2 separate regions of the Homo sapiens genome follow, and region 1 is linked to region 2. The links come from fine-mapping of genetic effects on gene expression. A gene starts in region 2. The other region holds a variant in brackets. All regions are shown on one strand. Distances are from middle to middle. Region 1 has its middle 46 kb from the start of GZMB. Region 2 holds the start of GZMB (granzyme B).

Region 1 (4,394 bases), 46 kb before region 2:
GATTGTGCTATTCTCCATGGACAACTCATTCATATTTAACTGGGAACCTCTGAACAAAATATCCTAATCCAAAGGCATGGCCTTCTATAGTGTAAATTCTAGACATCAAGGCACAGTACTCCTAAGTCCTCTATTTCTCTAGCAGTAAAGCTGGTTCATGCAAAGCTCAGTCTCCCCTGGGGGCCCTTGCATGTCCATCATACACAGGTTATTTACTATAAAACCTCTAGAAAAATCCCTTATGAGGTCTGTTCCTTCCTTCCTAGGATATTCAAATGGACATTCTCTTTCCAAACAGCCCATAACTATCAAATCACTTGATTTTTAGTGCAAAGAAAGAACAATTGCACCAGAATCCGGTGACCATGCTTTTTGGGTAGCTCACAGAGAATTTCATAATTCAGAATTAATTAGGCAGTGAGCAAGAACAAGAGGCATATTTTGGTGTATTAATTCATGCCAAGTTCAAACTCATTCCATCTCTGTTGCCCGGTGTGAATAATTATGCCATTAATCCCAGGCAGGAGGAGAGCTATTGTGACTACAACACATTTCTAAAGCAAATAAAGAAAAATGTCACTTCTCCCTTTCAACTAATGCTCTGAATACAGCTACATAATAATAATAGTCATTTATTTATAGGGCATAAATTCCCTAGGGCTCAATAAGCCACAGGATAAGCAAAATGCCAGTTAAAGAGAAAAAAAACAGAACTTTTCCAGTTATTAATAATTCTGAAACAAAGCACTTGTTGGGGAGAATGACCAAGAGGAGAAACTGAAAATTTAAGGAGAGCTTGGAAAAGGGCTCAAAGAAAGAGACAGTTGTGTGGCTTTTTCATTTTCTTCTCCCCTCCTGTTACATACTGCTCCCACTGTGACTCAGAGGGCCAGCTGTCTGGGGAAGAAAAATTTGACACATTTTTTAGGTTGGTGCAAAAGTAATGGCAAAAACCACAATAACTTTTGCACCAACCTAATAATCAGCCCTGAATGTCACCCTGATGCTACACACCCTTTGCTGTGAAAGCAAAATAGGTCGACCTGCCCCCTTCCCCATTTCTGAATTCCTTTCCAACTCACAGATGGCTTATTGAGCATAGAAGTATTGGAGGATCAGTGTGGTTTCCCATCCAGCCTCTCTTATGAGGGTCAGAAATGCATGGGGAGTAGCAGTCAAGAGGGTGCCCTATGTGCGTCATTTCCAGCTTCACAATGTTGAAGAGGAGATTGGGGATAGACAGAGGAGTGGCACTATGCAGAAGCAGTTCTACATTTTTCTACATTTCCTCTGAGACAGAAGGAATAGGGTCGAGGCCCACCAGGCAGGAGCCCTGAGTGCCAGAGGTCACAGAAGCAGTGGGGATCAGTCCACACTGCCCTGACACTGGCCCTTCTGCAGAGAGGTGGTGGCTGCTCTGGGTTCACACGTAGCCCTGCCCATTCCGCCAGTCAGAGCTGGCAAGAGATCCTTTAGCCACAAAGGCAGAGTGGCTGAGTTAGGAGATGGGGCAGGCCCTTCTCCTCAGTGGCTCCCACACCTAGCAGTGTCCAGAACACAATTCAGTGTTGCATGAACGAAATGAAGTGCTCTCAGTCTGCCTCTCATTCTTTCTTTATTTCACTTGGGGAAGTCACTTGACTCATTGAGTTTCAGTTTTCCTAGGTATAAAATGCTAACGATATTATATTATGAAGATGAACTATTGGAATTGCTATTTTTGTGGCCCAGAATTTTTAGAATGTCAACAATTTCACAAGGTTCAAACTAATAATTTATTTATTCCTTCATCCATCAATGAATGGCCACTATATGCTTAAAGCTGAGGATTCAGCAAGGAACAAAACAAATGATCTGGCCATGAATCTGACATCTTAGTTACATCTTAGTCAGGGGAGGGCAGAGTATGAACACACAGAGACAGGGAATCTTCTCTCAGGGGTAAATGCTGAAAGAAAAATACATCAGGATATGGGACCAGAGAGTGTGGAGGTGGCTACCCGTGACAGGGTGGCTAAGAGAGTCTTTTCTGAGGGGTTGGCATTCGAGTAGAGACCTGAAGAAAGCAAAGGAGAAAATAAAGATCTGGGAATAGAGCATTTCAGAAAGGACATTCCTGCAGGTGGAAAGGAGTGAGGGGTGGGAAGAGTGGAGGAGGGCAAGGTCAGAGAGTAGGCCATGGGAAAGACTTTGCAGTTTAATTCTAAATGAGACAGGAAGTCATTGGAGGGTTCTGAACACAGATGTGATACATTTTTCTAAGATCGCTGTGGTTGTTTAAGTGAAGCAAGTGAGGGCAAGGGGAGGGGAGAACGACGCAGACCACTTAGAATGTTACTGCTGTCATCAAAAGAAAGATAATGAGGACTTGGACTAAGATGGTAGCGGTGTCCGTGCCAAGAAGTGGTTATATTTGGAATATATTTTGAAAGTGGAGCTAACAGGAATGACCAGTGAACTGGCTGCAAGGTGCGGGAAAGAGAAAGGTCAAGAATGACTCCTAGGCTTTGGGCCTATGG[T/G]AATAAGTGGCTGGCGGTGCCAAGGGGGAATGGGGTGGAGCAGGGTCGGGAGAGGAGGAATCTAGAGTTCTGCTTTGCACACAATTGCATTTGTTTTGTCTGTCGGTACATGTGGAGAGTTGAGCGGGCCATCTGGAGCTTCATGGAAATGTCAGGGCTAGAGATAGCTCCTTCCAGCTATTTCGGGGCTAAACTTAGATCAAACACATGCACACTCTTGGGGATCTGTAAAGGACAGGACTGTATGAACACAAGGAATAAGTGACTAGATGCTTTCCCTGGGTTGCTATGTCAAATATGCTTATTAATATTTTAGAAACCAAACCTTTCTTCCCATATTCTAATTGATCGTCTATTCAACAAGTTTTACAATATAAATTTTAAGAATGTGCATTTTTCTAGGAACTCGGTAAAATTACGATTATTTGAAAATAAAATAATGTCTTTTACTAATAGTTTTACTTTCCCTGAATTGCTCCCTCACGTGGCGGGTAAAAGAATCTGCTCTGGACTCCCCAGTCTAGACAGTAAAAGAACTCAGTCTGGACACTAGAGGGCGCAATGCAGACAGTCAGAGCAGCCGCAGGAACTGAAAGGCGGCAATTCAGGAGTTCGCAGATCACTCCCTCTCCTGCTGTGTAAATCAGGGGTCCCGGCATTATGAGTCAAGGAGGGCAGCCCCCAGGCCACCAACGTGTGACCATTTTGATCAGGGGGATAATAGGGCCAGGCAGGGTTTTTCCAAAGGGAGCCCCTGGCAAATTTAAGGCACATCAGAGGAGAAAAAAGAAGTTAAGGAGAGAGGACACGTCAAGGAGAAAGAGAAAGAAAAATAAAGTAAGCAAAAATGAGGGAAACCAAGAAGTGCCTATTATAGAAGAATGGGAGAATTCCAGAAAGTCAGGGACAGAAAGGGCCTCAGAGACTTTTTATTTTTTTCTTTAAACTGGGTCTCGCTGTGACACCCGGGCTGGAGTGCAGTGGCGTGATCACAGCTCACCCCGACCACCCTGGGAGGATCAAGCGATCCTCCCGCCTCAGCCCCCCGAGTAGCTGGGATTACAGGTGCACAACATCACGCCTAATTTTTGTATTTTTTGTAGAGAAGGAGTTTCACCATATTTCCCAGGCTGGTCTGGAGCTCCTGGGCTCAAGAAATAAACCTGCCTTGGCCTCCCAAAGTGCTGGGATTACAGGTGTGAGCCACCACGTCCTGCCCAAAGACCATTTTTATTGAACTTTCTGTTTCCCAGATAAAAGGCTGAGGTGCTTCCTGGAGTTAAGTTTGGAGGCCTCCCAGGGTTGCTGTGCTCTCAGTCAGTGGTCTTCATTTCCCTACCATGTCATCTTCACAAAGTGTATGAACCTTACCAGGTGTCTCCTAGATGTCACATCATTCTCAACAAGCCTTAATGTGAGCACCCACTTACTTCACATATTTATTTTGCTGAGTCCCAAATGAACTGTCAAGTACGAATGTGGAATGCTGCTATGGCATAAGTATGATGATACAACTTGTACTGACATGCTAGATACAATAAATCTGCATTTAAGATGTAATTACAATAACTGGTTTTGTGGCTACAACTTTAAAAGGGCTGTGGGGATGACATTCAATTTCCCAGCATTCTTAAAACATTAAAAAAGTTTTGCATGCCTGCAGCATGCAAAATTATAGATGAAGAATCAAAGTTTTGGTATCACAGATATGGGTTTAAATCCTGGCTTTCAGTGGTTGCTAGCCCATGATTTGGAGCAATATTTCTAAGACCTCTTGCCTTCTCATCTATAAAATGAAAATAATAATAGTACTATGTCAGAGGATTGTTGTGAGGGTTAAATAAGATTGTTGGTAAAACTTCTAGTTCATTGTAT
Region 2 (4,394 bases):
AGTGTCAGCAAGGATGCAGAGAAATAGGAACTTTCCTATGTTGCTGATAAGCAATGCAAAAGGGTACAACCACTGTGGAAAACAGTTTGGTGGTTCCTTAAAAAATTAAAAATAGGATTATTGTATAACTCAGAAATTCCAAAAGTATATATATTTGGTATATATCCAAAAGAACTGAAAACATATTGTTCATGCAGAAATTTGTACACAAATGCTTATTATTGCTGCATTAGCTACAATAGCCAAAAGATGAAAACAACCCAAATGTCCATTGACAGATGAACAAATAACTTGTGGTATAAACATACAATGGGAATATTATTTTTCCATTAAAAAGAACGAATACTGGCATGTGCTACAGCTTGTATGAATCTCAGAAACATTATTACAAGTGAATGTAGCCAGCCACAACAGGTCATGTATTGTGTGATTCCGTTTATATGAAATATCCAGAGGTGGTGGTTGCAGATTTTGAATGTGCTAAATGTCACTGAATTGAATACTTTAAAATGGTTAATTGTATGTTATGTGAATTTTACCTCAATTTTTTAAATGGGTCATAAACTTATGTTTAGCATAATCCCCTTTTAATTTTAAAAAATGCAGATATTACATGAGAAAAAATGTGCTAGAGCATATTTCAAGACATTAAAGATGGTTATCAGTGAATGATGAGAAATTAGGTAATGTTTATTATTTTCGCTTTGCTAAAATTATTTAAAAATTACTTGCATATTAAATTTTTTAATGCCTAGGAAAGAAAGACTATAGTTGTATTGACTAAGATTTCTACGAGCATGGGGAAAATGCTTAATTTGTAGGGTTAATCAAGGATAAAATAAATTGCATTGTATGTACAATGTGATCCCAAGTATTTAAAACACACTGCTTATGGTAACAGTCAGTCTGTGGGAGACAGGTTAAAAAGTGATATTTTCCCTTCCTACTTTCCAAATTTTCTTAACAAACATATATTATGACTATAATCAGAAAAAATTATTTTTAAAACGTCTACTATGGGGCAAGCTAGGTTCAAAAAATAGAAGTTTGATAAATGTAGTTGGCTTGCTATTGACAAGGAAGACGTTTACACTGGAATTCTATATTTTGAGATATACCATTCCTCATAGAAAAATTTCCTCACAGAAAATATAAAGGTGGAAACAAATCACAAGAATCGAACCATGTAGAGAGACTTAGTTGTCTTTTAACAGAATTGGGCACGGGCTGTTCAGAAACAACAATCTTTCACATCCATTATAATGATAGCATTAGTGTAGTTTGTTTAGCAAATGTTTACTGTGAGCCTGTTATGTGCTGAGCCTGCTATGTAAGAAGTGTGGCTCTCTGGACAGGAGACAGAATACTAAACAACACAACTACTGATCTTTGGCTGCCTGGCATGCTTCCTCACTTCATATGGTATCAGCAATTTAGCACCACAAACGTCCTTTAGAGAACCAGCCCTTTCTCATTCTTGGTTCTAGTGGCTTGAGTAGACTGACCCCAGCCTACCCAAAGTGGATTTGACTCCTAGCAATTCATTAATCTAGCCCAATAAAATGTCAAGTACAGGACTTTTATTGAAAGCATTCAGAAAAGAGGTGGACTCTCACACTAAACATTTGTAACTAAATAAGGGATGTTAGAAATTCTCTAGAAAGGAAGCTATGATAATAAATGGGTTGCTAGATGGGTCTAGTAGATGGTGGCCATGCTTTGTTACTGCCTTGTGTATTGTGCTACCATAGCCCTCCCCAAACTGTACTCTGGCTCCTGGCATTTCCGTCTCTTCAACCAGATGGTCAGCTCTCTAAGTGAAGGAGACACATCTCCAACATGCTTGGTTCTAGCACAACAGAAGGGCTCAAACACATACCTGCTAAAGAAACTATCCTGATGGATTTAGCAGCATGGCCATGAGGCATTGGCGGTTCTATCACTGGGAACTCAGGTTTCTGGTGCTCCAGTACCTCTACTGGCTGATACCACATCCTACAATTCACTTCATAGGCTTGGGTTCCTGCTCTGGGCTGAATAGGTGGTCCACTCTGAGTCATCAGCTGTGGGTGATGATGTGGTCACTGCATGATTCTCACACAAGCACCCAGAGGACGTCATCAGGCAGAGGCAGTGGGGGTGGGCAGCATTTACAGAAAATCTGTGATGAGACACCACAAAACCAGAGGGGAACATGAAGTCACTGAGCCTGCTCCACCTCTTTCCTCTCCCAAGAGCTAAAAGAGAGCAAGGAGGAAACAACAGCAGCTCCAACCAGGGCAGCCTTCCTGAGAAGATGCAACCAATCCTGCTTCTGCTGGCCTTCCTCCTGCTGCCCAGGGCAGATGCAGGTGAGTGACCGTCTCCACCCTCGGGGGCCCAACCCCATCCCACAGGTCTCCTGCCCTTTCTCCACATTCCTGATCCATCTATCTACCAGGAATGTTCTGAACTCCAGCTCCCATTCTACCAAGACCCCCCAAGTGTGATGCTGGATAAGCTATCAGCAGGAATGGCAGAGCAGCAGGCCATTCTCAAGAAGAGCCAGTGGGTACTATCCCTTCCCCAGAGCCCACCTTTGTCACCTGGAGAGTAGGACTTTCCTAGAAGTAAATGGCAGAGGATGGGAAACTAGAAAAGAGAAATATTAAATTATTCTAGAGTAGGCCTGGCTTCTGTTTCTGGGATAAGACAGGTGCTTCTCTCACTGTCTACTTAGGAGAGAAACCCAGAGCTCAGCTGACAGCAGAATTGGTACAATCACTGTCCTCAGAACACTGTTAATGTGTTTGCTCAGTCCCATTCTCCAACTCTGCTTTTCTTCCCTGGCCTTTGGTGGCTCCCCTCTTTCCAAGGATGAGGCACTACGGCAGGCCCCAGCTTCCCTGCTTTCTAGAATTCCACCAGCACTGCTCTACCAGCCCTCATCCAGAGGCTAACTGGAGCCAGTCCATCATGCAGCCATGAACATTTACTGGGCACCCACTACATGTCAGGCTCTAGGAAACAGGATATGACAGTATCTAGATCCCTCCACTTACACCCTGGCCATTAGAAAGCAGCACTATCCTAGACACCACAGGACTCATAAGGGTCTTGGAAACTCACCTGAAACAAAGCAAAGTCAGGAGAGGAATGATCAGGAGCCTCTGGGATTTCACTGTCCCTAAGACAGGTATGCTCGCCTTCAACTACATATGGAAGAAAGATTTACAGACCAAAGTCTGCTGTTCTTCCCTTTTTCAGAGCAGGAAATTGAAGCCCCTTCCTCCAGGCCACTCCCAACTCCAGGCTATCCCAGGCTCCCAAATGCCCAGGAGTTCTGGAGCCACTAAGCAGGTGCCCACCCAGCAGATTCCATGGGTGCCCACAAGCAGACAGACTTTTCCTTCAGGGGAGATCATCGGGGGACATGAGGCCAAGCCCCACTCCCGCCCCTACATGGCTTATCTTATGATCTGGGATCAGAAGTCTCTGAAGAGGTGCGGTGGCTTCCTGATACGAGACGACTTCGTGCTGACAGCTGCTCACTGTTGGGGAAGGTGAGGAGCAGAAAACAGCCCACACCCTCCTGGAAACACTCCACAGAGACCCCTGCCTTCTTCCCAAGGAGCTCCCTGGGCTCCTGTGAACACACATGCCAGGAGGTCTCCTTAGAGGGTGAGAAAAGGGCAGTTAAGTTTGTGGAGAGAGGGGAAGGTTGGTTCCAGAGGTGCTGCTGAAGTAAGAAACAGCAGAGTGACCAAGCCTGCCATATTTAGAACTGGGGGCATACTTTGGCATAGAATACAAACTGAAGCAATTCCACCTGTGTTTCTAGGGGGAACCGAACCCTGAGAAACCTGGTGCAATTACCAGAATTCCAATTCCTGGGGACCGACTGTCCCCTTAATTTCCCCTCAGCTGCAGCCCTGCCCCAGCTGTCACCTGCTCTTCACTGTCTCTGGGCTGTATACCCTGTGACTCCACCCCCATCCTCACTCTGCTCTCTGTGCAGCTCCATAAATGTCACCTTGGGGGCCCACAATATCAAAGAACAGGAGCCGACCCAGCAGTTTATCCCTGTGAAAAGACCCATCCCCCATCCAGCCTATAATCCTAAGAACTTCTCCAACGACATCATGCTACTGCAGGTGAGGCACACTCCTGCCACTCTTGCTCTTCTTGGTCCAGTTGGTTCCACTCCCCCTGGAATGCCGGCCCTTCCCTCCTTTCCATCCTGGCCTCTTGGTTAGTTCCTATGCCTCAGAGGAGAGGGAAGATTGTGCAGCCCCATCACTGTGTCGGGGCCCAGAAGTTCGTTGGCTGACCTGGACTTTCTTGCCTCTTCCCCACCAGCTGGAGAGAAAGGCCAAGCGGACCAGAGCTGTGCAGCCCCTCAGGCTACCTAGCAA

The links. PIP is the estimated chance that this variant, and not a neighbour inherited with it, causes the effect.
Region 1: its variant is fine-mapped to the expression of GZMB in whole blood (INTERVAL, PIP 0.99).

The regions. Positions count from the first base shown.
Region 1 is chr14:24,677,777-24,682,170 of GRCh38, reverse strand. No RefSeq gene overlaps it. Among named protein-coding and RNA genes, the nearest start is that of GZMB, 46 kb to the right of the region's middle. RefSeq lists a silencer at 2,975-3,154. The variant T/G (reference allele first, on the strand shown) is at 2,520.
Region 2 is chr14:24,632,063-24,636,456 of GRCh38, reverse strand. It overlaps GZMB (granzyme B), which reads left to right and starts at 2,267. Exons shown (of 5, transcript NM_004131.6): 1 at 2,267-2,351; 2 at 3,395-3,542; 3 at 3,998-4,133; 4 at 4,339-4,394. The coding sequence starts at 2,297. GZMH-AS1 (GZMH and GMZB antisense RNA 1) reads right to left here and starts at 3,355. Exons shown (of 3, transcript XR_007064087.1): 1 at 3,109-3,355; 2 at 1-2,161. RefSeq lists an enhancer at 1,689-2,888.